Linked DNA regions of Homo sapiens. The protein of the gene in region 1 purifies or fractionates together with the protein of each later gene. This does not show direct contact. Each region holds a gene or a part of one and is shown on either strand. Other genes may lie near its edges. The genes, in order: CDC14B, GINS1, C5orf22, PPP1R12A, AHCYL2, GINS2 and ANKRD28.

Region 1 (4,215 bases):
TCCCCTGGAGCTCCCTTACATTAAAGCTGGACCCTTCCGTTATTAGGGCTTGCAATCTGATAGGATTTTTTTTTTTTTTTAGCAGCAGCAAGATTTATTGTGAAGAGCAAAAGAACAAAGCTTCCGCAGCGTGGAAGGGGACCAGAGCGGGTTGCCCTCTGATAGCATTTTTATTTCCTGTAACGCACCCCTCCTCAGTATTCTGCTTGGTTCTATTTTTCTGAAGTTGATTAATTGGTGACTGCCTCACGAAGACTAGCCACATATTTCATCTCCATCAAGAAGAAAGATTTATTCCAATGACTTTGCTGTCACAAACCTTCTGATTGAAAACCCAAATGTTCATCAACAGGGACTGTCTAAATAGGTTAAAAAACATTCAAATCTACATAAACATTTAAATCCATACGTACTTGTTAATGGTTTTATTCATAAAACCGTATGTACATTGGCCTAAGCAGTAATTAAAATCAAGTAAGCCAGTCTTATATGCACCAACTCAGAACAATCATTCTAATAAGAAACACTATGAAAACGGAAAAATGTGCAAAACAACATGTGTGCTACTCGCACGTGTATGGTAGAGAATATATAGTATATATAGTATGCATGCACAGCCTATTTCTAGAAGGCTTCACAAGAAACTGGGAAGAGTAGTTGCCTCTAGAGAAGGACACTTGGAGACTGTGAGACCAACTTTTCTGCACGTACTCCTGTGCACCTTTAGAATTGGAGTTCTGTACCATGTAAATGCATTACTTGTCCTAAAATTAAATCCCATTCAACACAGATCCTTTCAAGAGGTATAAACAATAACGGGCAGAAACTATGTATAGGCCCACCCGTTCCCAGCCCCATCCGTCCTCGGCGAGGCCCTCTCCTGGGAAGGGCACAACGTTAGCGGGACTTGGCTTCTCAGTCTCAGCAGGCTTCACCTCCCGCACACCCCCCGCAGCTACCGGCCGGGGACTGGTACTCAGGGCAACCCCTTCCTATGCCCGCTCTGGTTCCCAAGGGCCATCCACCAAAGCCGAGAAACCCGCTCTGCTCTCAGCTTCATTTCAAAACGAACTTAGTTTCCAGATTGTCCATGAACCTAGAATATTATTTCTCCTAAACGTCTGTGTTTGTCTAAACACTTCCACTTAATGTTCTCGCCACTCCAGCTTACCTGGTTTATCAAAGGCTAGGGGCTGGAAACAGTTTTTAATAACGCCACGCACCGAGGTTGACACATTCCCCGCCACTGAAAACAGACTGCCAATTCCCTCAAAATCGTGGACAGCTCTGCTGTTTACACAGCGTTGCCACATACATCATCACATTTAATGCCTTCACACGCGTCACTGTCAATCCCAGCAAACCTAACAGCTGCCAAATTGGATTTATGAGTCTCCAAGAACAGTCGAATCAGCACTAACAGAACAGCTATCGAAGGGCTGCTTGGCTACCTGCTCTGGCTGGCTGGGATTTCTCAAAAGTGACAACCCGGACATTCGTCTTGCCGGCTGGCTCGAATGCCACCAACGTGACACCTTCCTTCTCGAGGCCCCGGCGGGGAGCGGACCCCGGGAGGCGGAGGCGTTCGGGGGGCGCGCTAGGGGGCAGGGCGCGGGAGGCCCAGGAGAGGGGCTCGGGCTTACGCGCCGGACGGGCAACGCGGCGCCCAGGGTCCCAAGGCTACGGAGCAGCGGGGGTTTGGCCAACGCCAAAAAGGGGCAGCTCCCGTGCCAGGCGCGTTCAGCGCGCTCGGGGAATCCTCAGGGGCTGATTCAGAGGTTGTGACTCGCGCGAGGGCCAACCGGGCTCGCAATCCCTGAAGGCGGAATCCACAGGAACTCAGAAGCAGCCCGCGGGGAGGAGCTGCAGGTTCGAGGCGCCGGGCTGACGCCCGCAACTTAGAAAGGTGACCCTCGGTCCATCTTGCTGGTGGAGGAGGGTGCACAAGCTAAAGTTAAAGCTCGCAGCCCACGCAGCTAGAAACTCGGGGCGGGGGGCGCTCCTCAGGAGCCAGGCTCCTAAAGGGGGTGTGGCGGCCGGGGCGTTTAAGGGGGTGGGGGCGAAGGCATTTCGGCCCGGCCCCGGAGGCCCCGGGCAGCCCGGTGGGAGGTGGGCCAGGGCCCCGCGCCGGGTGCGGCCGTCCGGGGCCCTCCGCGCGCCCACTGGCCGGCTCACCGGTGATGTCCAGGTACACGTCGTCCTGGGGGTCCCGGCGGCGCGGGTCTTGCTGCGTGGAGCTGCGGATCTTCTTCACACCCGGCGAGGTCGACGAGCAGCGCCGCGAGCAGGGGGGCGCGGCGGCCCAGCTCGACCGCCGCTCGCTTTTCCGCTTCATGGAGGCGGCCGCGGCCCGTCAGGGGGCCACGACCATGGCCCCGCGCGCCCGCGCGCCCGCCGAGGCTCCCGCCAGCCCCGCGCGGGCGCTCGGGGCGGCGGGCGCAGAGCGGCGCTGCGGGGACGGCGGGCGCCGGCAGAGCCCGGCGGGAGGCGGTCGCGCAGGAGCCGGAGGAGGAGCCCGGCCCACAGCGCCTGCCCCGCTGCCTCCCGCGGCCGCCGCAGGACCGGCGCCGCAGCCCTCGCTACAGCGCCTCCTGCCGCGGCCGGCGCCCCCAGCCCGCCCCCAGGTGCCCGCAGCCGGCTGGCGCGGCCGAGGCGACGGGGCTGCAGCTGGCGGCCGGAGCTGCCCGGGGTAACCGTGCGTGCCCACCGCGGCCGCGGCCGCTGCTGCGTAGGCGCCGGGGCACAGCAGGACGCGGCTCGTGGGGACCCCAGGAGGGCTGTTCCGTGGCGCTTCATTCACAAAAAAGGGCCCACAACCCTCCTCGGGGCCCGCAGACTGAGGCCTTTCATTGGCCAATGCGGCGTGACGTCACGGAGACGGGGCCTTTCTACAGGCAGGTACTCGGTGACGCCATAAAGAAAACTCTGAGGGCTTCCGCCAATCAGAGATAAAGTGTGCTAGCGACCTTCGCCAGCCCCCCAACTTTTGTTTCTTCTGTGTCCTCCAGGTGCCAGCACCCCAGATCCCAACTTTCTTTAGTGAGTCACCAAACATTTACACAGCCCCACCCTAGTAACTTAACTCCAGGTCTTTGGCATATATATATCTTAAAGTATTTCTTGAATTTCCTTGTAATTCGCGCCAAGAGAAAGGGACTTTTGCCATGGCTGCCAGCTTGGAAGAGGATGGCCTGATTACATTACCTGCAGCTATATAGATTTAAAGTAGAGTTGATTTCAGAACTTAAGTAAAACTATTTAAACAACTACGCTCTATTTATCGACCTATGCCCAGCATTCAAACAGGCCAAGCAAGGGCTTCTTAAGGACCCGATGAAACTTCCGTGGAACCACAATATACCGTGGTTGTTTGCACCTCAGAGTTTCTCATCTCGGAATCCAGCGCCCACATTAATTCAGTAAGTTTATACACTCATTGCTGTGTATACTGAGGTGTCGACAGGTCCGATTATATCATGAAGTATTGAAGCAAGGGGCAAGTTTTGTCCTTAAACTTCTTTATCTGGCACACTGTAGGGTCATATCCTCTTCTTTTTCTACTGGATTAAAATAATGCCCTATCTTCCTGGAACTTAACCAAAAACTGTCATTTTGGAGGGCCTTTAAACAAACGTCCATGGTAGCATCTAAAAGGGTGAGAAGATTGGAGGGCAGTGTTAAGATTTCACGGCCCCAAATTTTACAACATCTGCAAGCTGTCCCTATTTTTCACCAGCACTTGAACGTTTTATCCTGCAGTTCCGCAGTTAACTGCCAGCCTGGGGAAAAGAAAGATGAATTTGAGTCAGTCCCCTTGGAAGCCTCTCAGAAATGCAAATTTTCATAGAGCACCTCAGGAAGGGGCTCTTTGACTTCTATTGTTGTGGGCTTTTACCTTAAGCACGGCTAAATAAGGAAGTAGGGGGGCTGTGTCTGAAGCTAGAGATCAGCAACTCTGTAAGCACTTTTTCTTAAGGTTGGTTCTCCTGTTCACTCTTCCTCTGTTTCCCCTAAGGAAATCAGTGAAGGCCTTAAATTTAAAATGATCTACATGTCTGTCTGTAGGGGCAGCAAAGAAGCTAGAGACGTGGGAGGCTGTGCGGCGCTGCGCAAGTAAGTTTTAGAGAGCAGAAACGGTAGGGTCACAGTCCTTTGTTTTGACCTGGAGGAGGAGGAGGAGACCTTTCAGACCGGCCTAGGGGCTCAGCATTGGAA
Region 2 (3,500 bases), on another chromosome or scaffold:
TGCCTCAGCTTCCCTAGTAGCTGGGATTACAGGCGCCTGCCACCATGCCCAGATAATTTTATGTATTTTTAGTAGAGATGGGGTTTCACTATTTTGGCCGGGCTGGTCTCGAACTCCTGACCTCAGGCGATCCACCCACCTCAGCCTCCCAAAGTGCTGGGATTATAGGCGTGAGCCACCGTGCCCGGCCCAACACACAGGCTTTTCTTCTGGAATCACTCATGGTTAAGCGCTGTGTTCAGCAAACAGAAAAGTGATTACACCCTTTCTATATGCAGAATTGATACTTTTTTTAAAAAGTACATTTTTAAGAAAGTTAGGCCAAGCATGGTGGCTCATGCCTGTAATCCCAGCCACCACTTTGGGAGGTCAAGGTGGAAGGAACACTTGAGCCCAGGAGTTCGAGACTAGCCTGGGCAACATAGTGAGACCCCATTTTTACAAAAAATAGAATTAGCTGGGTGTGGTGGCACACACCTGTAGTCCCAGCAACTTAGGAGGCTGAAGTGAGAGGATTGCATGGCTCCAGGAAGTTGAAACTGCAGTGAACTGTGGTCACGCTATTACACTCCAGCCTGGGTGACAGACTGAATCCCTGTCTCAAAAAGGAAAAGGTAAGAAAATTACCTTGGGCTCAGGTAGAAGTCATGCTTGCATTTTCCATCAGGAATTACATCTTTTGAGCAGAGTTGAGTAGTTGATTTTGGAATTGTGCCATTTGTATATGCCACAGCATTTTTGCCAACACATATATTTTGGCCCTAAAAATAGACAGTGAAAAAGAGATGGGATTGCTTCTCTTTCGATTGTTGGCAGACCTATTGGGTAACATTTAATCATTTTGGGCTGGACACGGTGGCTCCTGCCTGTACTCGCAGCACTTTGGGAGACCATGGCAGGCGGATCACTTGAGGTCAGGAGTTTGAGAGCAGTGTGGCCAACATGGCGAAACCCTGTCTCTACCAAAAAAAAAAAGATTACAAAAATTAGCCAGACTTGGTGGCTTACACCTGTAATCCTAGCACTTTGGGAGGCTGAGGTGGGTGGATTGCCTGAGGTCAGGAGTTCGAGACCAACCTGGTGAACATGGTGAAACCCTGTCTCTACTAAAAATACAAAAATTAGCTGGACGTGATGGGCACCTGTAATCCCAGCTACTTGAGAGGCTAAGGCAGGAGAATCATTGCTTGGACCCGGGAGACGGAGGTTGCAGTGAGCCAAGATTGCACCATTGTACTCCAGCCTGGGTGACAAGAACAAAACTCCGTCTCAAAAAAAAAAAAAATTAGCTGGGCATTGCTGGTGCACACCTGTAGTCCCAGCTACTCGAGAGGCTGAGGCAAGAGAATCACTTAAACCTGGGAGGCAGAGGTTGCAGTGAGCTGAGATCGCACTACTGCACTCCAACCTGGGCCACAGAGTGAGACTTCATCTCAACAACAACGAAAAAAATCAGAATTCTAATGTTTTATTTTTCCAAGGGAAAATTTGCCCGAAACTGGATACTAGAAAAACTCCTATGGCCGGTTTTTGCAGTGCAAACCAAAAACACTATTCCTTTTTCTTTCTTTTGGTATTAACCTTTTAAGATCACTTTTAAGCTGGGCCCAGTGGCTCATCCCTGTAATCCCAGCACTTTGGGAGGCTGAGGCGGGTGGATCACCCGAGGTCAGGAGTTCAAGACCAGCCTGGCCAATATAGTGAAACCCCGTCTCTACTAAAAATACAAAAAATTAGCCAGGCGTGGTGGTGGGCGCCTGTAATCCCAGCTACTCGGGAGGCTGAGACAGGAGAATTGCTTGAACCCAGGAGGCAGAGGTTGCAGTGAGCCGAGATTGCACCATTGCACTCCAGCCCAGGCGACAGTGTGAGACTCCATCTAAAAAAAAAGACCATTTTTTAGTAAATTATGAATTATTTACATATTTTTCTTTATACCTCATGCTTCAGTAGGACGATTGATATCTTTGTTCGTCAATTTTATTGATGTATAATTTACATACAACATGTGTATTTTAATAGATTTTTGAATTTTGACTAATATGTACATCTTTATAACCAGCACCCTGATCAAGATTTCTGTAATTATCAAAATATCTCATATAACCCATAAATATACATACCTACTGTGTACCCACAAAAATAAAAAAATTAAAAAAGATTTCTGTAACTTTGCCCCCCTTTTGTAGCTACCTCCCACCTATAGCCTTAGGCAACCATGAATTTGCTTTCTCTGACTACAGATGATATTATTCTTTTTGGCAAACTTTTCCTGTGAAGGGCCAGAGGGAATCATTTCATGTAAACTCTTGTGTCAGGCATCTCTTGCTCAGTATAACGTATTTCAGATTATCCTCATTGTTGTGTATGTTGTCAGTAGTTCATTTTTTTTTTTTTTTTCTTTGAGACGAAGTTTCGCTCTTGTTGCTCAGGCTGGAGTGCAATGGCATGATCTTGGCTCATTGCAACCCGGGTTCAAGCGATTTCCCCTGCCTCAGCCTCCTGAATAGCTGGGATTACAGCCTGTCACCACGCCTGGCTAATTTTTGTATATTTAGGAGAGACGGGGTTTCACCATGTTGACCAGGCTGGTTTTGAACTTCTGACCTCAGGTGATCCACCCGCCTCAGCCTTCCAAAGCGCTGGGATTACAGGCATGAGCCACCACCCTTGACCCATTCTTTTTATTATATTAGATTTTTCAGATAAGTGGAAGGTTTATCCATCTATCATTTGATGGACGTTTGGGTTGTTTCTACATTTTTATTGTTATGAATAATGCTGCAAAAAACATGTGTTTTCTGTTTTCTTGAGTATATATATACACCTAGGAGTAAAATTACTGAGTCATATGGTAATTCTGTGTGTAGCTTTTGAGGAACTGTCAAGTTTTTGCCCACAGGGCTATACCGTTTTACATTCCCACCAGCAATGTACGAGGGTTCCAGTTTCTCCGCATCTCACCAACACTTGTTATAACCATGCTAGTGGGGTGTGAAAGGACTATTGCTTTTTGCTAAAGTATATAAATGAAAGATACAGTTCAGTATTGATAGCATATTGCCACAGAATTGGTGGGGAAATCAGTGGATTTCAATATCGGTTTATATGTTCTAGGAGGATGGACTCAGACAAGTTCTGGAGGAGATGAAAGCTTTGTATGAACAAAACCAGTCTGATGTGTAAGTTTCATAAGATGATATTCTAAAACAATTCAATAATTAAGATGTTGAAATTGGCCGGGCGCGGTGGCTCACGCCTGTAATCCCAGCACTTTGGGAGGCTGAGGCGGGCGGATTACGAGGTCAGGAGTTTGAGATCAGCTTGGCCAACATGGTGAAACCTTGTCTCTACTAAAAATACAAAAATTAACCGGGTGTGGTAGTGGGTGCCTGTAATCCCAGCTACTCAGGAGGCTGAGGCAGGAGAACTGTTTGTACCCGGGAGGTGGAGGTTGCAGTGAGCTGAGATTGCACCACTTCACTCCAGCCTGGCGATAG
Region 3 (3,126 bases), on another chromosome or scaffold:
CACAGTCACCTCCCACCAGGTTTCTCCCATGACACATGGAAATTGTGGGAGTTACAATTCAAGGTGAGATTTGGGTGGAGATACAGCCAAACCATATAATGAGCAAAGCAAAAGAATATTTTGGTGAAACCTAAGCAAATCCAAGACTTAAACTTTTTTGTTTAACTTTTTTTTTTTTCCCCTGGGAGCATATATTCAAATTGCCCTGAATAAACACTTCCAAGACTTACACTTTTTAAAAATGGTAATTAAGAAGATCGTTATAAGATACTTAAGGTTTGAAAATGTTTTGAGGCCAGGAGCAGTGGCTCATACCTGTAATCCCAGCACTTTGGGAGGCCAAGGCAGGTAAATCGCTTGAGCCCAGGAATTTGAGACCAGCCTGGGCAACATGGCAAAACCCCATCTCTACAAAAAATACAAAAATTAGCCAGGTGTGGTGGTGCACACCTGTAGTCCCAGCTACTTGAGAGGCTGAGGCAGGAGGATTGCTTGAGCCTGGGTGGTTACAATGAGTTGAGATCCTGCCATTGGACTCCAGCCTGGGCAACAGAGTGAGACTTTGTGTCAAATTTAAAAAGAGAAAGAAAATGCTTTGAATTCATACAATATTATCAAATATGTCTGCAGGCAGGTCTGCTTTAATCATTACATTGCATCTGGGTTTTTTTCGTTGGGTGGGTTTGATGTTTTTTGGGGGGCAGGGAATGGCTAGGGCTCAGTCACAGATTATGTAATCCATTATGATATGCCCTACAGCTGCAGAGATAGAACGCTAAATAGTTTTATCATTTTGGCAAAATGAACATCCAGAATTCATCCTTTTATCACACTGACTGATCATTGCCAGTTAAATTGTTGATGTGTATCCAAAGCCTCCAATAAAATATTTGATTAGTGTGTTTTTTCATACTTTGCACTTGCGTACTCTAGGCAAAACTATGACATAGTTAAGTTCCAGTTTTCAAAACATTAAAGTTAAGGTTGCAGAATGGTAGCATGTGAGCCACTTCTAACTTTCAGGCAAGTTTAGTGTAGTGCTAAGACTAGAACATATTCCATTCAAATTTAAAACACATAGGTAGATAGCAGTAGCTTATGGTTATACATAAAGGATACACAAGAAAACAGTTTGGTTAAATAAGGTAGGATAAATATTTTCTCTTGTATCCTCTCAAAGCTTTGAATGTAGTACTAGGTGCACATATTAATATTTAAAAAGTAAGTAAAATAATGTGTTAAAAATGAGATAAGAATATGTACAATTTTTTTTTTTCTTTTTGAGACGGAGTTTCGCTCTTGTTGCCCAGGCTGGAGTGCAATGGCACGATCTTGGCTCACTGTAACCTCTGCCTCCCGTGTTCAAGTGATTCTCCTGCCTTAGCAGGAGAAGCTGGGATTATAGGCATGTGCCACCACGCCCGGCTAATTTTGTATTTTTAGTAGAGACGGGGTTTCTCCATGTTGGTCAGGCTGGTCTCCAACTCCCGACCTCAGGTGATCCGCCTGTCTCAGCCTCCCAAAGTGCTGGGATTACAGGCATGAGCTACCACGCCTGGCCTCAACTTTTTAGAATCTAGATGAAATGGATAATTTGATAGAAAATGTGAATTACCAAAATTGACCCAAGCCCAATGAAGTAGTTAAAGAATTATTCTAAAAAGAGGCATCTGGCCCAGACAGGCATATAGGCGAGTTCTACCAACACTTCAGAGAGCAGATAACTTTTATGACATAGAAACTGTTAAGGAAAAAATAATCCCAATGCATAAAAATATTAAAAATTAAAAGTTTTTCATATTTAAGGTGTTGGATATCCCAGTTACCCTGATTTGATCTTTATATGCTATTATGAATCACATGTACCCTGAAAATATGCACATCTTTTATGTATCAATAAAAGTAAAGATTTGTCAATAAGGCCATTAATGATTAAAGAAGCTTATAAAAACAACTGTCATACAGTGTAATTTTTAATTGTCTTATTTTCAGGTTCACCAGGCTGGTTTAACCTGCGATTATTCAGAACTTCCTCACCATATCAGCACAGAACAAGAAATAGAGTGTCTTATTCAATCTGTGCATTATTTGCTGAAAAATTTACCAAATCCTACTCTTGTGACAATTGCAAGGTAAGTGTGTTCAGCAGAATAATGGCAAATCAGAGATGTGCACATCCTAATCTCTGGAACCTGTGAATATGTTACATTATATGGCAAAAGGAAATTCGCAGTGTGATTAACTCAAGGATTTTGAGATGAGATTATCCTGGATTTATCAGGTGGGCCCAGTGTAATCACAAGGGTCATTAGAAGAGAAAGGCAGGAGGGTCAGAATCAGAGAGAGTGATTCGAAAATTCTACACTTCGGGCTTTGAAGGTGGAGGCCACAAGCTAAGGAACACAGGCAGCCTTTAGAAGCTAGAAAAGGCCAGGGGACAGATTATCCCTGGGATCTTACAAAAAGAATGCAGCCCTGTCAGCACCTTTATTTTAGGACTTCTGACCTCCAAAACTATATAATAAATTAGTGTTGCTTTAAGCTACTAAGTTTGTGGTGATTTTTTATAGCAGCAGTAGGAAACTAATACAATCTCTGTAGGTAAATAACCTGGTCACTAGAGCGTAAAATGAGTTTATCAGTGGTCTTACAGATTATCTCTTTAGGTTTGAAATACTTGTACTAAGGAGTAGGCCAGATAACTAATTCCAGTTCTTCTATAAAGATTTCTGTGCTGCTCTTCTCACTCTGTCCTCTAGAAGGCTTTATTCACCCTTATCCGGAACCAGGAGACACTGGTTAATCCAGTTGTAACTGGCAGCAGCATTGTAACTGCCCAGTGCAACTCAGGTTGCAGTTGGTAAGTTCTGGAAAGACTCCCAAAATACAGATATCTGCCCCAACCTACTTTGCTCTTTTCTGCTTCCTACTGCCTAGGAAAGTAAATCCAACACCAGCACATCGCCACATTTCATTTTGGACCAAGCCATGGATCCTTTATAATTTTGTAGTTAACAAATCATTTTTAGAAATAGGATCCTTTTATCAGTTGGAAAACCTCGACCCTCATCATTTCTAGCCCTAGCACACACATAATAAAAGATGTTCCATCGCTAAGATAATAAG
Region 4 (3,500 bases), on another chromosome or scaffold:
TAAACAAAAACGCATGCACATACATAAGCACACAGTAGACCTGAGCACAAAATGTATCTGTGACTTACCTGCTTTGTGTGCCTGCTGAGGAAGAACCCGTTGTAATCTTTGTAGTAGTGCTTGTGCTGGAAAGCAGGCTTTTCTGAAGCCCAGCTGCAGAGGTAACTGTTGGTGTTGATGTGGTGCTTGGAACACTAGAACTAATCAAATCATCTTGTCTTCTACCAAAGGAGCAACTAAACAAAAGAGTCATATCTATATAGGATGTGTTTGTATGTGTATTCTATAGTTAATGTCTATACATTATATAAATTACAAGGCTAGAAAAAAAATTTAAAAACTGTGTTCCTAAATACACCACCAGCTCCAGCACCAAGAGTTGCATCTACAACTTGCTAGAGTTTAGAAGATTTCACTTAATTCGGTAGTGTATCATTTTAGTGCCTCCTCCCAACTTTCTCAACAAGACAAAGATGATCTGATATTTCATATTTTTGAAACTATTCCACACCATATGGTCATGCCAGGCTGAGCCTGAAAAACACACTTTGGTTTTGTATTACCCAGGGAAAACAAGACGTTGACATTTTTTTGAAGGAAATTATTTCAGCAATGGGTCAGATACCTCGGAAGTAACCAATGCCTACATGATACTTGTTCACATCTTATTCTTTTTGGTTGCTTTTAGTAAAGAAATTGTTTATAGGGCTTTTTTTTCCTCTTCAATATGATACTACCAACATTCCAACTGAAGGCATTTCCATAGCTCTGAGTTCTAGGGCAAGCCAAATCTTTCCAGATCAACAATGACAACTAGATCCATTAAGACACTGGCCTGTTTAAGTTGTTCTAGTCAAGGAGTTCCTTCTAAAGGAGTTCCTTTTAAATATGTAACAATCCAAAAAACATTTCATAATATTTGAAGCTTAATTATATAATAGGCATAACAAATTATCACCTATCTTTAAATATATATCCTGTGTTTAGAGTAAGTTTTAAACAACAAAAACTCGTATTTAATAAAAACACATATTTGTTTAAAATGATGTTAAACTGAGGGCTCCAAACAAATTGCCTCATATTTTTATAAATGAATACATAAAAACCGCTTAAGAATAGTATTATTACCTTTTATGATACGTTGATCCTTCATTAACTGAGCTATTTTTTTTAAGATCATCTTCCCATTTTCTCCTTGTATATGAACTACTTGTTCGCAAACTTGAAGAATCTCTGTTAAAAGAACACCCTTCAGATTCTGGTACATAATTTTAAAATAGGATTAAGAAAGCGGTACACTAGTAAATATTAGTATAAGCTGAAACTAGTAAAAACCTTTGGGAGGACACTTAGGAATACTAATCAAGAAGATAAAGTAATTTCAGTACTAAGATTATATACCCTAAGGTATAATTTTTCCCCTAAGTATGGGGGAAAATTCAGATATTTATAGAAATATGCTTTTTGATCACAAAATATAAAGTAGGGGAGATGCTTACTTTAACCGCAGAAGATCTACTTTATAGTATGTTATGTGCCGACAAAAAAAATGCTTATTAAAAATATATATTAACATAGAAGACTGCTTATGAGATCTTAGGGGAAAAAAATAAAAAAATTAGATATTATAACATGATTAAAAGTATATTAAAAAGTTATTGGCCGGGTGCAGTGGTTCACACCTGTAACCCAGCACTTTGAGAGGCCGAGACAGGTGGATCACAAGGTCAAGAGTTCAAGACCAGCCTGGCCAAGATGGTGAAACCCTGTCTCTACTAAAAATAAAAAAATTAGCTGAGCAGGGTGGCAGGTGCCTGTAATCCCAGCCACTTGAGAGGCTGAGGCAGAGAACTACTTGAACCTGAGAGGTGGAGGTTGCAGTGAGCCGAGATTGCGCCACTGCACTCCAGCGTGGGTGACAGAGCGAGACTCTGTCTCAAAAAAAATAAAAATAAAAATAAAAATAATTAAATTAAAAAAATAAAATTCTATAAGCTGAAAAACAGGAAGAAACTAAAATATTTAAACAATATTTAAACAAAAATATTTAAAACAAACTAAAATGATTAAGTAAGGGCTTTCCTTCTTCTTTCCCCTTTCCTAAATGTTCCAAATATTTAGAGAACTCATACTAGTTCATGACCTTATCTCCTCCCACTTTCCCCTTACTCTGTTCCAGCCACATCTTCTTTGCTATTATTTCATGAACATACCAAGCCTGCACCTCCTCAGGACTATGTACCTGGTATTTTCTCCTTCAGGAATATCCTCCATCTCTTCCCACAATACATATCCGCACATAATTACAATGCTCATGTATTAACTCTAATGCTAGATAATAAAGATTTTATAGTGAATGCATAAAGCAAATCAAAATAAACTCACCTGTTTTCTTTCTCTTCAATGTCAGATGTACTGGCTAGTCGTCTTGGTATTGTAGGTGCAACATATGCAAGCCTAGTTCCTTTACTATCTTTCTCCTACACAACAGGGAAAAAAATAAGTAAAAATTAATTTGGGTACTGACTATAGGCAATGCTAAAAGTATTAAGAAAAGGTTATTCAATAATTATAATTACATAGCTATCATAGTTTACAGTATTTCAACAATTCCTAGCTGAACTCTAAAATTAATGTCAATCAATAATCAGCCTGTTCAAATTAGTTTTCTTTCTCTTTTAGCCTGGAATCAGATAATATTTTACTAAGAAAGGAAAAAAATTTCTCCAGATTTTAATGACTTTTTCTAAAACTTCTCTAACAGATTAATACTGTGTCATAAGCTGAAATATCTTTATTTCTTCCAGAGAAATAAACTTTCAAATATTGTTCACTGAGAGGTCTCAAGCATTTATATTATATAAGCTATTTAGAACCTTGATAATCAATGCTCTCAAATACATCAAAATAGTCAAAACAAATATTATTTAAATTATATTTATCCAAATATGGCTAAGAGTGTGTAGTGACAATGACACTCTGATACATTCCTAGTAAGCTGGCATAAAATACCTGGAAACCAACTGCACAGTAAACTGATAAAAAAGCAAAAATATTAGAATTACTTGATGAGAAATTTCATCTGAATTTCTGATATAAGGAAACATTTCTAAGTATAGAAAGAAAACTGTATGGGCAAAAAAAATAGTTCAAGCACTGAATATGCTGTAGAAATAAATACTAGTATTGAATAAACTGTGGTACATCCTATATAATGCAGTATTAATACCACCTCTCAAAATAGTTATTAAATTTACTCATTAAGACAAAGTTGCTTGTAATATGGTAGATGAAAAATCTGGTATTTTTTTTCAGATACTGAATAAATGTAACTTATGAGTATACTAACATTCTAGAATAAATGTGTTCCTATGTTTTTTAAACTTCAGAAAGTTTCTTGAATCATAATAAACAAAATAAGCCTGCTCCTTAATACAGTTCTATTATAAATTCTCAAGTAAGGTAATAGATTCCTTTAACGGAGTATAGTCCCATAATTT
Region 5 (3,500 bases), on another chromosome or scaffold:
GATTTGAGGTCATAAAGCACAGAAGTGAACTGCCCTCCAAAGAGTGACAAATCCTTTTAAAGAGAGAGGGAAGACTGTTTCACCTTTGGCAGTGCATGGGGGGAAGAAATGGCTGCCACAGATAAGAATAAGAAAATATCAGCTAAACTTTTGAACAATTACGAAAGGCTGGGTGTGGGAAAGTGTGTCAATGTGGAATTTTTTGAAGCTCCAGACACAAGTAGATTTCCCATTCACATGCAGGCTGTTTTCCAGAGGCTTCCACCCAGTGCTCAAAACAAAGACTGGGGCAGGGAGCTGATTGGCTGTGCTCAGAAACAGACATGAAACCTGGGCACTTCCCTACACTCTTCTCTCATAGGAACCAAAGCCTCAAGCTGTAGGAAGAGCAGGAATTGGGCCTGCCATTAGGGACTAGGCAAAGATCCACTGTGTCTGGAGGAAGGCAGAAGCAAAAACTCTGCCTCTGGGAGAGGCACAGGAAAACCTCTTGGGCCCAGGACAGTTCACTGATACAAAGTAAGGATCTGCTACCTCTCCAGCTCTCCAGGAAGGGCAGGAAAATATGTCTTGCCCAAGACCCACCACAGATTCAAGGCAAAGTTTGGCTGCTACAGATAGGAGAGGCAGGAATATTGAGAAAACCCTGCCCCTCACAGAGGTCTGCCTAAGACTGAGACTGCACCAGAGATCCAAGAACCCCACTTGCCCTCACCGTGTGCTTAGCCCCAGGAAACAAAGAGCAGCAGTCTAGTGCGGCAGATGAGGCAGGTACTTGAAAAGAGGACACTTCTGTGGCACACATGTGCAGAAGTAGCTGAAGGCTGAGGGTAAAGCAGAAGCACTGAGGAATGTCCTTTGGTAACCTCAAATCACAAGGTTATAGCAGTCCACTGCTGGAGGAATTTGAAGCCTTTGTTGATATACAATGAACTCTAAATTCAGCCCAATTCATGACTATAACGAAAACTAATATACTACCACTCAATTAAAAATGTCAGGACATACAAAAAGTAAAAAAAAAAACCCACTGTCAGGAAATAAGTAAACAACAGAGGCAGGCTCTCAGATGAGCCAGATGTTTGATCAGACAGGAGATATAAAATAACTATGATTAATATGTTTATGTTATTTATTTATATTTTTTTATACACAGGATCTTGCTATATTGCCCAGGCTGGACTAATATGTTTATGTTAAAGGATCTAGTTGAGAAAGATAGACAACATCTATGAATAGATAGAAAATTTCAGCAGAGATGGAAACAATAAAAAGTCAAATACAGGCTGGGTGCAGTGGCTCAGGCCTGTAAAGGCCAGCACTCTGGGAGGCCAAGGTGGGCAGATCACCTGGGGTCGGGAGTTTGAGACCAGCCTGACCAACATGGAGAAACCCCATCTCTACTAAAAATACAAAATTAGCTGCTTGGTGCCACATGCCTTTAATCCCAGTTATTCGGGAGGCTGAGGCAGGAGAATCGCTTGATCCCAGGAGGTGGAGGTTGTGGTGAGCCAAGATTGCACCGTTGCACTCCAGCCTGGGCAACAAGAGCAAAACTCTGTCTCAAAAAAAAAAAAAAAAAAAAAAAAGTCAAATACAAATGCCAGGAAAAAAAAAAAGTCAGATTAAAAGTTCCTTCAACAGGTTTATCATCAGACCGGGCACATCCAAGGACAGAATCAGTGAACCTGAAGATAGACCAATAAAAATTACTGAACTGAGCCAGGCACAGTGACTCATGCCTGTAACCCTAGCGCTTTGAAAGGCTGAGGCAGGAGATCGCTTGAGGCCAGGAGTTTGAGACCAGCCTGGGCATCACAGCAAGATCTCTTCTCTACAAAAAATTAAAAAAAATTAGCCAGGCATAGTGGTATATGCCTGTAGTCCCAGTTACTTGGGAGGCTGGGGCAGGAGGATCGCTTGAGCCCAGGAGTTTGAGGCTGCAATGAGCCTGCAATGATTGTACCACTGCACTCCAGCCTGGGTGACACAGTGAGACCCTACTCAACAAAACAAAACAACAACAAAAAAAGAAATTACTGAACTGAAATACAAAAAGAAGAAGACTGGCAGAAAAAAATCACAACGGAGTGCTCAAAATCTATGGGGTCTATGGGAGTCTATGGATTCTTTCCCTCTTTGCCTTCTGGAACTCCAGTTACATGTATGGAGAGGGAAAAAAGAGGATCTGGGAACAATGACATTTCAAAAGCAAAGAGCACATTAGTGCCCAGATCCACTAAAAGGAGCTAGGCATTCTGGGAGAAATGGCTGGTTCCAAGAGTAGGGCATGGAATGTTCAAGATGAGCTTAGGTGATCTTGTACCAAAAGCAAGGAAATGTTCAAAGAATGAAAGGGATATATCAAAAGACAAAAGAAGTCACAGAAGCCACACTGAAGAGGCTCTCCCTGGTCAAACTGGGAACAAGATGATCATGTAAATAAGTAATGATAGTAATGGATTATAACCTATTAAATAAAATAGGAAACAATGATTCCATACAAATAAAAATAATGAATAAATCAAAGTAAGATAAAGAATGAGATATTTACAGTTTCATAGTACTATCTCACATAAACATATTAATTCTATTTTTATTTATTTTTGAGACAGGGTCTCACTCTGTCACCCAGGCTGGAGTGCAGTGCAATCTCAGCTCACTGCTCACTGCAATCTCGACCTTTCGGGCTCAATCAATCCTCCCACCTCAGCCTCCCAAGTAGCTGGAACTACAGGCACATGCCACCACACCTGGCTAACTTTTGTATTTTTTTGTAGAGATGGGGTTTTACCATGTTGCCTAGGCTAGTCTTCAACTCCTGGGTTCAAGTGATCTGCCAACCTTGACGTCCCAAAGTGCTGGGATTACAGGCGTGAGCCATCACACCCAGCCCAAAAAACATATTAATTATAAACTGGGAAAAAAACTTTTACAGAGGAAAATCCTGGGAGACACCACCTCAATCAAGGGATTAAAGTGAATATCATCAGTTCTGGGACAAACTGAAATCATGTGTCACCTGATAGGATATATCACTTCCCTGAATTCCCACCATAGATGTATAGCCTGAATCTCATAATGAGGAAGCATCAGAAAAATCCAAATTGAGGAAATTCTACAAAATAATTCATCTGTAATCTTCAAAAGTGTCAAGGTCATGAAAATCAAAGAAAGACTGAGAAACTGTTCTGTACTAATGAAGATTAAAAAGACATGACAACTAAATGTGACATATAACCATGGACTGGATTCTTTTGTTAGAAAAATATTATCAGAACAACAAGCGAAACTCCAGTGGGATCTAAGGATTGGATGGTAATAATGAATCAATGTTAATTTTCTACTTCTGATGGTTATACTGCTAGTACAGGAAAATGTCCTTCTTTGTAGAAAATACACACTAAAGTATTTGGGGATTGCTATGGTCTGAATGTATGTTCTCCTCCCCCAGAGTCATATGTTAAAAACTAACCCCCTAGGCGATGGTATTAAAAGGT
Region 6 (3,500 bases), on another chromosome or scaffold:
AACCCCCCTAGGATATTGTATCGCGCCCAGGCTGGGGTGGCTCTAGTTTTGTAAGTTGTCTTGCTCCCTTCTGAACAAGGCTTAGTATAAATAAATTTAAGTCACTGACTAGTTTGATCACTTATTGCATCAAAGGTCTAATACTGACCAGGTGACTCACTCCTATAATCCCAGCACTTCGAGAAGCTGAGGCAGGGCGATCACTTGAGCACAGGAGTTTGAGACCAGCCTGGGCAACATAGTGAGACCTTGTCTCTACAAAAAATAAATGGTGGCATGTGCCTGTGATCTCAGCTACTCCTTGGGAGGCTGAGGCGGGAGGATTGCTTGAGCCCAGGAGGTTGAAGCTGCAGTGAGCTGTGATGGTGCCACTGCACTCCAGTCTGGGCATGAGAGAGACCCTCTCAAAAAAAAAAAAAAAAAAAAAAAAAAAGGCGGTAAAGGTAAATCACTTTGCTGTTTCCCTAAAAAAGAAAAAAAACAAAAGCAAAACACAACAAACATCAAACTTTTGACTCTAACATTGTTTTTAGGAATATCTTCTGCAGGCTAAAGCAGCGACAAAAATTTACCTTTCTTTTGGAGAGAAAGTTTCAAGGAGGAGGCCTCAAATCATCTAGATAATGATACAAATGTCATCCCAAAATGTTTTTTCATGTATTTGCTAGTTGATAATGTATTTGCCAGATAATATAGGCACTTGGTAAATTTGGAAGGTTTAATAAATATCTTGGTTATAATGATGGTAAAATGTATTAACTTCTAAATTTCAGAAAAGTTGGAGAAGATGAGGGATCATGAACGAAAGGAAGAAACTTTTACCCCAATGCCCAGCCCTTACTACATGGAACTTACGAAGCTCCTGTTAAATCAGTAAGTAGATCTCACCTCTTAGAGGCCACACCCAAGACTGGACTCGCCATGCCCTTCCCCTAACCCTCGTCCTTCCTCTCCGCTTCCCTGCTTATTGCCTCAGTAAGTGGCAACACTGGCCGCCCTGTTTCTCAGGTCAGTGACCATGAGGTCATCTGTGTACACACACCTGCCAGGTGCACTCTGTCTGTCTCTGTGTGTCTTTCTGTCTGTTCTTTGCCTTTCTCTGTCTCTCATTTTTCCTTTTCTCCACTTCCCGGTGAAGCCCTTGGCTCTTTTTGTTCTGCCTCACATCACTCGACATTGGACCCCAGTGTGAGCCACCAGCATCTCACAGAATCGGCAGTAGCCATTCTTTGCCATGTATGTGTTTTATTTAGCACAGCTTTACTCCTGTTTCTCCTTGGAGTAGGTGGATTTGAGTTTTTTTGTGTCTTTCGCAGGAAAGGCCAGAGGGCTTACATTTGCCTCTGTCCTTGGGTTACAGGAAAGCCCACTTCCTGGCAAAATCATGCTGTAGTAACTCCGTAGCTTGTTTGCCTTCATCCATACTGGCTCCGCTCAGCTTTCCATTCATTCTTCACATCTCAGCCAGAGGGGCCTTTGAAAGGCAGAACTGCCATGTGACTCCCTGCTTAAAATCCTGTCTTCCCTCTCGTCTACCTGAGCGTGGTGTTCAAGCAGTGTACAGCCTAGTGCGTGCTCCTCCTCCCTCTTTCACCCTCTCTACAGCTCTTTTCTCTGCTTCTGGAGGGCTCAGGCTCACACTGGCCCCTGTCACTTCTTCAAGCATTCTGACTTTGCATATACTGTTCTCTGCCCTGTAAGTCTGTCCTTTCCCTGCCCCTGCTCACCTCTGCTGGTTAGCATAACATGTCTCTTCTGGGTTCAGCACACATGTACTCTTGGCAGCTCTACACATTGCTATGGCATTTGCCAGTTGTAATTTTCTTGTTTGCCTGGCTGTGCCATCACATGTACCCATTCTAAATGGGCAGGGGCTGGGTCTCGTATGCATATGTCCCCAGTGAGATGCCTGCGGCTCATGTTTGTTGAGTGAAAGTGAAACTAGTGAAGAAGGCAGACAAGGGTGGATAATTTTGCTTGGGAGATACTTAGAATGTCATTTGTACAATTTCAAGCTTCTGAAGCTCCCCGGGTATCCTTTAACTGGGTTCAAGAGCAGAACTAGAATAAAAAATTGTGACACTAGTACTACTGCATGCTGCAGAGCAGCAGGAAGGGCTGGGAGCCCACTGAATGGCGCTGCTGAATTTAAAGGAAAAGTTGGGGACACAACATGGGCTTGTGCTTAGGCTGAGATGAGGCTGCAGTCAGCCCATGAATTTCATAAAAAGCTGAGAAGCAGCAATGCACCAAGCATTCCACTCGGCAGTGGCGTTTGTCCCATAGGCCTGCTTCCTGGTGTGGTGCGGGAGAGATGTGGGCCTGGGAGCCTATAGTGAATCTTCAGTGTGACCAATGCTCTTGACAGTCCATCAGAGCGCAGTAAGGCCAGGTGGTGCCAGAGAGGGCTCACAGAGGTTTGCTGGGAGTGCAGACTTGTAGGAGGTGGACGGTAGGGGAGAGGGCAGTGAGGCAGGAACTGATATGCTCAGGCAGAGTGTGAAGGACCTGGTGTAGCCGGGCAAGCAGAGATATTTGAGGATGTGTAGTACATTCATGGGAGCAGAGGAATGGAGGCATAGGTTCTGCTGCAGTGGCCAGCCCCTGGGAGGGGCATGTGGCCTCAGAGGGACCTGAGAGAGACTGTAGTGGTGGTGGGGATGGTAGCTGGAAGGGAGAGGATCTATAAACAGGCTAGGTAAGAATTTGGCATTAGCTAGGTGAGGGGGCCTATCCATTTTTTGTTTTTGAAGTTCAATATATTATGGATGTAGTTTTTATCAAAAACCTTGTTTTATAATTCATTCGGTTAAGGGACTTAATTTTACGTTTGTTCTATAGTTCAGCTGACGAGGAGTTGGGGTCCTTTGTCCTTTAACCTGCTGTTGAGAGCACAAGATCTAAATGTTTGGGTTTATAAATAAAACTCACTACATAAATTTTGTACCAGTGGTTTGCCACTTACTCATCAGGAATTAATTGTAGCATATGGAGAGAATGTCTAGCGTAACCTGTAATGCCTAGTGACGAACAATATTTGCTTCTGCTTTTATCGTGTAGTTTTTCTTCAAAGGTTAGTTTAAAATACTTCACAACGGGAGCCTCGACTTTGTGAAAGCCTTCCTTCATCCCTTGCTGGCTTTGAGCTTCTAGCCAGAATTTTGCTATGTGTAGGTGTGCTCACTGTATACTAATTTGCAGTTTCTTCTGTGATTTTTGAAACTTGTTTTTGTCTTCTCTGAAGAGCAGGAGAGTCCCTTCCCTTCAGGGCTTTTGTGAGGATAGAAATGCCAGGTAAAGTGCTGAGCCCAGTACCTGGCATGGAGTTGGCGTTTTCCTTCTCTAGGCTGTGAGCCCTGGATTCCTGGTGGGGAATAGGGAGATCTGCTCAACACTCTGTAAATGAGGAGCAATAGAACTCGACCTTTGAGCCAGCCCTCGAAACTGATTCCTTGTAGATGGAGGTTAGGCAGCACGGAATGCTGTTATCCTGAGACAGA
Region 7 (3,500 bases), on another chromosome or scaffold:
ATGCAGAGGTCTAGGGGAAAAAACATGATACATGTACACATATGTGCATGTGCATGCACATACACATACACACCTGGCTGTCAAAGAGCATTTTTGTCAACTTGTGAAGACCAAGAGGTACAAACTCGAGAAACCTAGTCCTAATAACAAAGATGGGGGCAGGGAGAGCAGAACCTCTGTGCAGTGCACTGTCACACCTTGTCAACGTGTAGCTCGGCATCAAGCTCAGCCATAGGTCCCATCGACAGGTCCCTACCTTCACCCAATCCTTTTGTTACTTTTCTTTTCAATGTTTAAAAACATTTTACCATTGAAATTGCATTCCTCCGTTGTTAAGGAATGAGGCTGGTAAAGATACAGACTATACATTAAAAACTGTAAACTGCAGTAGCATAAATTCTAATAGGCTTTGAAAACAGCTTACAAGCATCATGACTAATTTTTGGACCTTCAAGGGATCTGACTAATCCCAGAACGGGCAACAATATTCTAAGATTTTTATCTTTACTAAACCTCAAAATGGAATAGCAAGGGACAATGAGAGACACTGATGTAAGATCTCTGTCAGTCTATCTGGAGGTTGGCTGCTCACATTATTAAAAATTTTGATTCTTTAAGAAACCTTATTGGCTTACAGACACACATAAAGCTTCTTACCTCATTTATTGTTAGTTTCAAGTAACATATTATTACAGTTGATTTCCACAGAATACACAAAATAGTACTACTTTCCTTCAGAAAATTAGGTAGGTGGATTAAGGAAAAAAATACATTATTGTCAATGTTATAATAAAATTTCAGTTCAAAAGCATTTTAAATAATATGGCTTTTAGTTGTGATCATTTTAGAAATGAGTTTTGACAGTTGTAAAACTATTAAAATTGCTTCTATGACTAATGAAACCTATTCCAATAGTCACATGTTTAAAAAAATCCATTTATCATTTTTATAATTATAGGTCACAAAGTTTATACTAGATACTGACAGTACTCACGTTTGCAAGGCTGCGTTGGTTGCATTGATGAGGTTTCTATCTGTTATCTTTTCCAGTATTAACAAGGCACTAGTTTCATGACCCTATAATTGTGGCAGATAAGTTATAAAAACTTGAGCACCATTAAAGATACATTTATACACCCAACAATCTGCAATCCTAGTCCATATATTATGTACAACACCATACATATACCATGAATTTTCCTGGCTAATATCTTAATATTTGCCCAAACACATCTTGGGAGTGAGGGTAGGAGAAGAGGACAAAATTAAGATTAAGGAAAGAGGATAATTATGCTTAGACTTGTGTTCCAAAACTTATTTGGCTTACTGGAGACTTTGATACGCCATGGTGCCTTATAAGTCAATTTTGTTCAAGAAATCTAATACCAGTGATCATTAGAGAGGTTTGGTCCTGAGTTGTTCATTTTAGTGAAGTCAAAAAACTTTTAAGGTCACTGTTAATATTAACAATGGAAACATATTCTTAAGATGTATACATACCTTGCTACAAGCCAAATGGAGGGCAGTATTTTTACTGTTATCTTGTAAAGTCAGTTCTGCACTAGCACTGCTAACCAGCATCTCTGGGAGGAAAAAGTGCATCAATTCTTATGTTTATGAACATGTTTCTTAGATTACCAATAACTCACTGTAGAGAAATGAAGATACAAAGCAAAAAAGTCCCTCTCACAAAAACTTAAGTACAAGAAAAATATTGTAATATATAACATATATATCTTCATATAATTGTATGAGACAATTATATTGTTGTATAAGTCACACACTCTAACAATGGCAATTAACATTTATTTTGTGACTGTGCACTAAATTTTAAATACTGTTTTATATGCTCTGGATTTAAAGTAATTTATTTAACCCTCACAACAACACACCAAGTAGATACTGTTATTTTTCTCATTTTATAAATGAGAAAACTGAGGCATAAGGTCATTTAGCTGAAAGATCTAGGACTCACATTCAGGCAATCCAACTCCACAGCCAGTGTTCTTAACCACTATGTTATAAGGCCATGGTAAAGTAGACTCCTCAATAGTCAGGGCAAACTAAAACATTGTATCCCTAAATGAAAATGTGGATTGCAAACAGGTAAAAGGTTTTAAGTCTTAGGAGTGGTAAGATAACTAGTTGAAGTCAGAAGTCTTGGGATCTAAGTTATACATAAGTGATACACATACTTAGGAAAATACAATTTTAAAGAAGTTTCTTTACCAACTGTATTTGTTTGTCCATTTTCTGCAGCCATCATAAGAGGTGTTTTCCCTGTAGAGTCCACAGAATTGACTTGAGCATTATGGCTGAGCAGCAGCTGTAAACACTCTACATGGTCTGTGAAGGCGGCTGCATGGAGAGGAGTTCTGTGATAAAGAAAAATTGAAATATATGACTAAATTTGAATGTTATATATGCTGGAAAAATATTCTTTAATTTGTGACATGCTGTTTTTAAGGGTTTACATATTAGGCTACAAAAGCACTGCCTGTACACAAACAAATAGGCTCAATGGAGCTTACTAATTTCTCTCATAGAAATTTGTACTTTCAATAATACAGAAGGCTTTAATTAAACTAGAACTAGTATGAAGTAAAGATTAATTACAAAATTGCTAAAATAACATTACATCATTAAAGGAAATTTTGAAAGAAATAAATCCTAATCTGAATACCACCACTTATTACAACTGCTGGACTTTTTTCCAGGCTTTATTCCCATTTAGAAAACTGTTAACTTTGTTAACAATAATCTTTGGGAAACAAATTCGAAAGAGAGGGAAAAATATTTACATGTTAAAATAGTTTAAAGGAGGAAAACTTCCTAAAATCTATAAATAGAAAAACCTTTTATAATGTAAAAATAATTGAGATCTTATAACAATTTATACTCGCAAATATAAAAATCAACTTTTAATAATGGGTTTTCTGTAAATTCTCTCACACCAGCCAGTAGTTAAAATTTATTTCTTATTGAAAATAAAACCTTTTTGGGGGGTAGGGCCCAGACGGGATCTCACTCTGTCACCCAGGCTGGAATGCAGTGGTGCAATCATAGCTCACTGTTGCCTCAAACTCCTGGGCTCAAGTGATCCTCCTGCCTCAGCCTCCTGAACAGCTGGGATCACAGGCATGCATCATCATGCACTTTTTTTTTTTTTGGTAGAGATGCAGGTCTTGCTATGTTGACCAGGCTGGTCTTAAACTCCTGGCTTCAAGTCATCCTCCCACTTCAGCCTCCCAGATTGTTAGGATTATAGGCATGAGCCACTGTGCCTGGCTAAAACTATTTAATACATAGTTGAATTCCTACCTTCCTTTTGAATCTGTGGCGTTCACAATGCTGGCACCTAATGTATCAATTAACATCTCAGCAGCACCTTCGTTGTCATTTATCCTGTGTAAGGTAACAAGGTGATCATTCTCACAGCAATGGTGTATTTCTTAAAACACTCAAACCAAATCTGATTCATTCTGGCTTTACTTACACGG

What was found.
Region 2: the proteins of CDC14B (region 1) and GINS1 purify together in Homo sapiens (affinity purification with mass spectrometry; one large-scale study listed by BioGRID and IntAct). This does not show direct contact.
Region 3: the proteins of CDC14B (region 1) and C5orf22 purify together in Homo sapiens (affinity purification with mass spectrometry; one large-scale study listed by BioGRID and IntAct). This does not show direct contact.
Region 4: the proteins of CDC14B (region 1) and PPP1R12A purify together in Homo sapiens (affinity purification with mass spectrometry; one large-scale study listed by BioGRID and IntAct). This does not show direct contact.
Region 5: the proteins of CDC14B (region 1) and AHCYL2 purify together in Homo sapiens (affinity purification with mass spectrometry; one large-scale study listed by BioGRID and IntAct). This does not show direct contact.
Region 6: the proteins of CDC14B (region 1) and GINS2 purify together in Homo sapiens (affinity purification with mass spectrometry; one large-scale study listed by BioGRID and IntAct). This does not show direct contact.
Region 7: the proteins of CDC14B (region 1) and ANKRD28 purify together in Homo sapiens (affinity purification with mass spectrometry; one large-scale study listed by BioGRID and IntAct). This does not show direct contact.

What each region holds. Positions count from the first base shown.
Region 1 is NC_000009.12:96,617,044-96,621,258, forward strand, and holds the start of CDC14B (dual specificity protein phosphatase CDC14B), read right to left. Parts: upstream 2,801-4,215; 5' UTR 2,336-2,800; coding exon 2,176-2,335; intron 1,902-2,175; exon of another isoform or gene 1,314-1,901; coding exon of another isoform or gene 1,172-1,313; intron 1-1,171.
Region 2 is NC_000020.11:25,410,673-25,414,172, forward strand, and holds part of GINS1 (DNA replication complex GINS protein PSF1), read left to right. Parts: intron 1-444; exon of another isoform or gene 445-614; intron 615-3,117; coding exon 3,118-3,182; intron 3,183-3,500. UniProt on the Homo sapiens protein: Required for correct functioning of the GINS complex, a complex that plays an essential role in the initiation of DNA replication, and progression of DNA replication forks.
Region 3 is NC_000005.10:31,549,301-31,552,426, forward strand, and holds part of C5orf22 (UPF0489 protein C5orf22), read left to right. Parts: intron 1-1,992; coding exon 1,993-2,132; intron 2,133-3,126.
Region 4 is NC_000012.12:79,806,098-79,809,597, forward strand, and holds part of PPP1R12A (protein phosphatase 1 regulatory subunit 12A), read right to left. Parts: intron 2,481-3,500; coding exon 2,386-2,480; intron 1,234-2,385; coding exon 1,129-1,233; intron 237-1,128; coding exon 69-236; intron 1-68. UniProt on the Homo sapiens protein: Key regulator of protein phosphatase 1C (PPP1C). Mediates binding to myosin. As part of the PPP1C complex, involved in dephosphorylation of PLK1. Capable of inhibiting HIF1AN-dependent suppression of HIF1A activity.
Region 5 is NC_000007.14:129,392,530-129,396,029, reverse strand, and holds part of AHCYL2 (adenosylhomocysteinase 3), read right to left. Parts: intron 1-3,500. UniProt on the Homo sapiens protein: May regulate the electrogenic sodium/bicarbonate cotransporter SLC4A4 activity and Mg(2+)-sensitivity. On the contrary of its homolog AHCYL1, does not regulate ITPR1 sensitivity to inositol 1,4,5-trisphosphate.
Region 6 is NC_000016.10:85,678,955-85,682,454, reverse strand, and holds part of GINS2 (DNA replication complex GINS protein PSF2), read left to right. Parts: intron 1-773; coding exon 774-873; intron 874-3,500. UniProt on the Homo sapiens protein: Required for correct functioning of the GINS complex, a complex that plays an essential role in the initiation of DNA replication, and progression of DNA replication forks.
Region 7 is NC_000003.12:15,675,980-15,679,479, forward strand, and holds part of ANKRD28 (serine/threonine-protein phosphatase 6 regulatory ankyrin repeat subunit A), read right to left. Parts: coding exon 3,497-3,500; intron 3,406-3,496; coding exon 3,322-3,405; intron 2,376-3,321; coding exon 2,230-2,375; intron 1,649-2,229; coding exon of another isoform or gene 1,635-1,648; exon of another isoform or gene 1,584-1,634; coding exon 1,501-1,583; intron 1,078-1,500; coding exon 995-1,077; coding exon of another isoform or gene 991-994; intron 11-990; coding exon 1-10. UniProt on the Homo sapiens protein: Regulatory subunit of protein phosphatase 6 (PP6) that may be involved in the recognition of phosphoprotein substrates. Involved in the PP6-mediated dephosphorylation of NFKBIE opposing its degradation in response to TNF-alpha.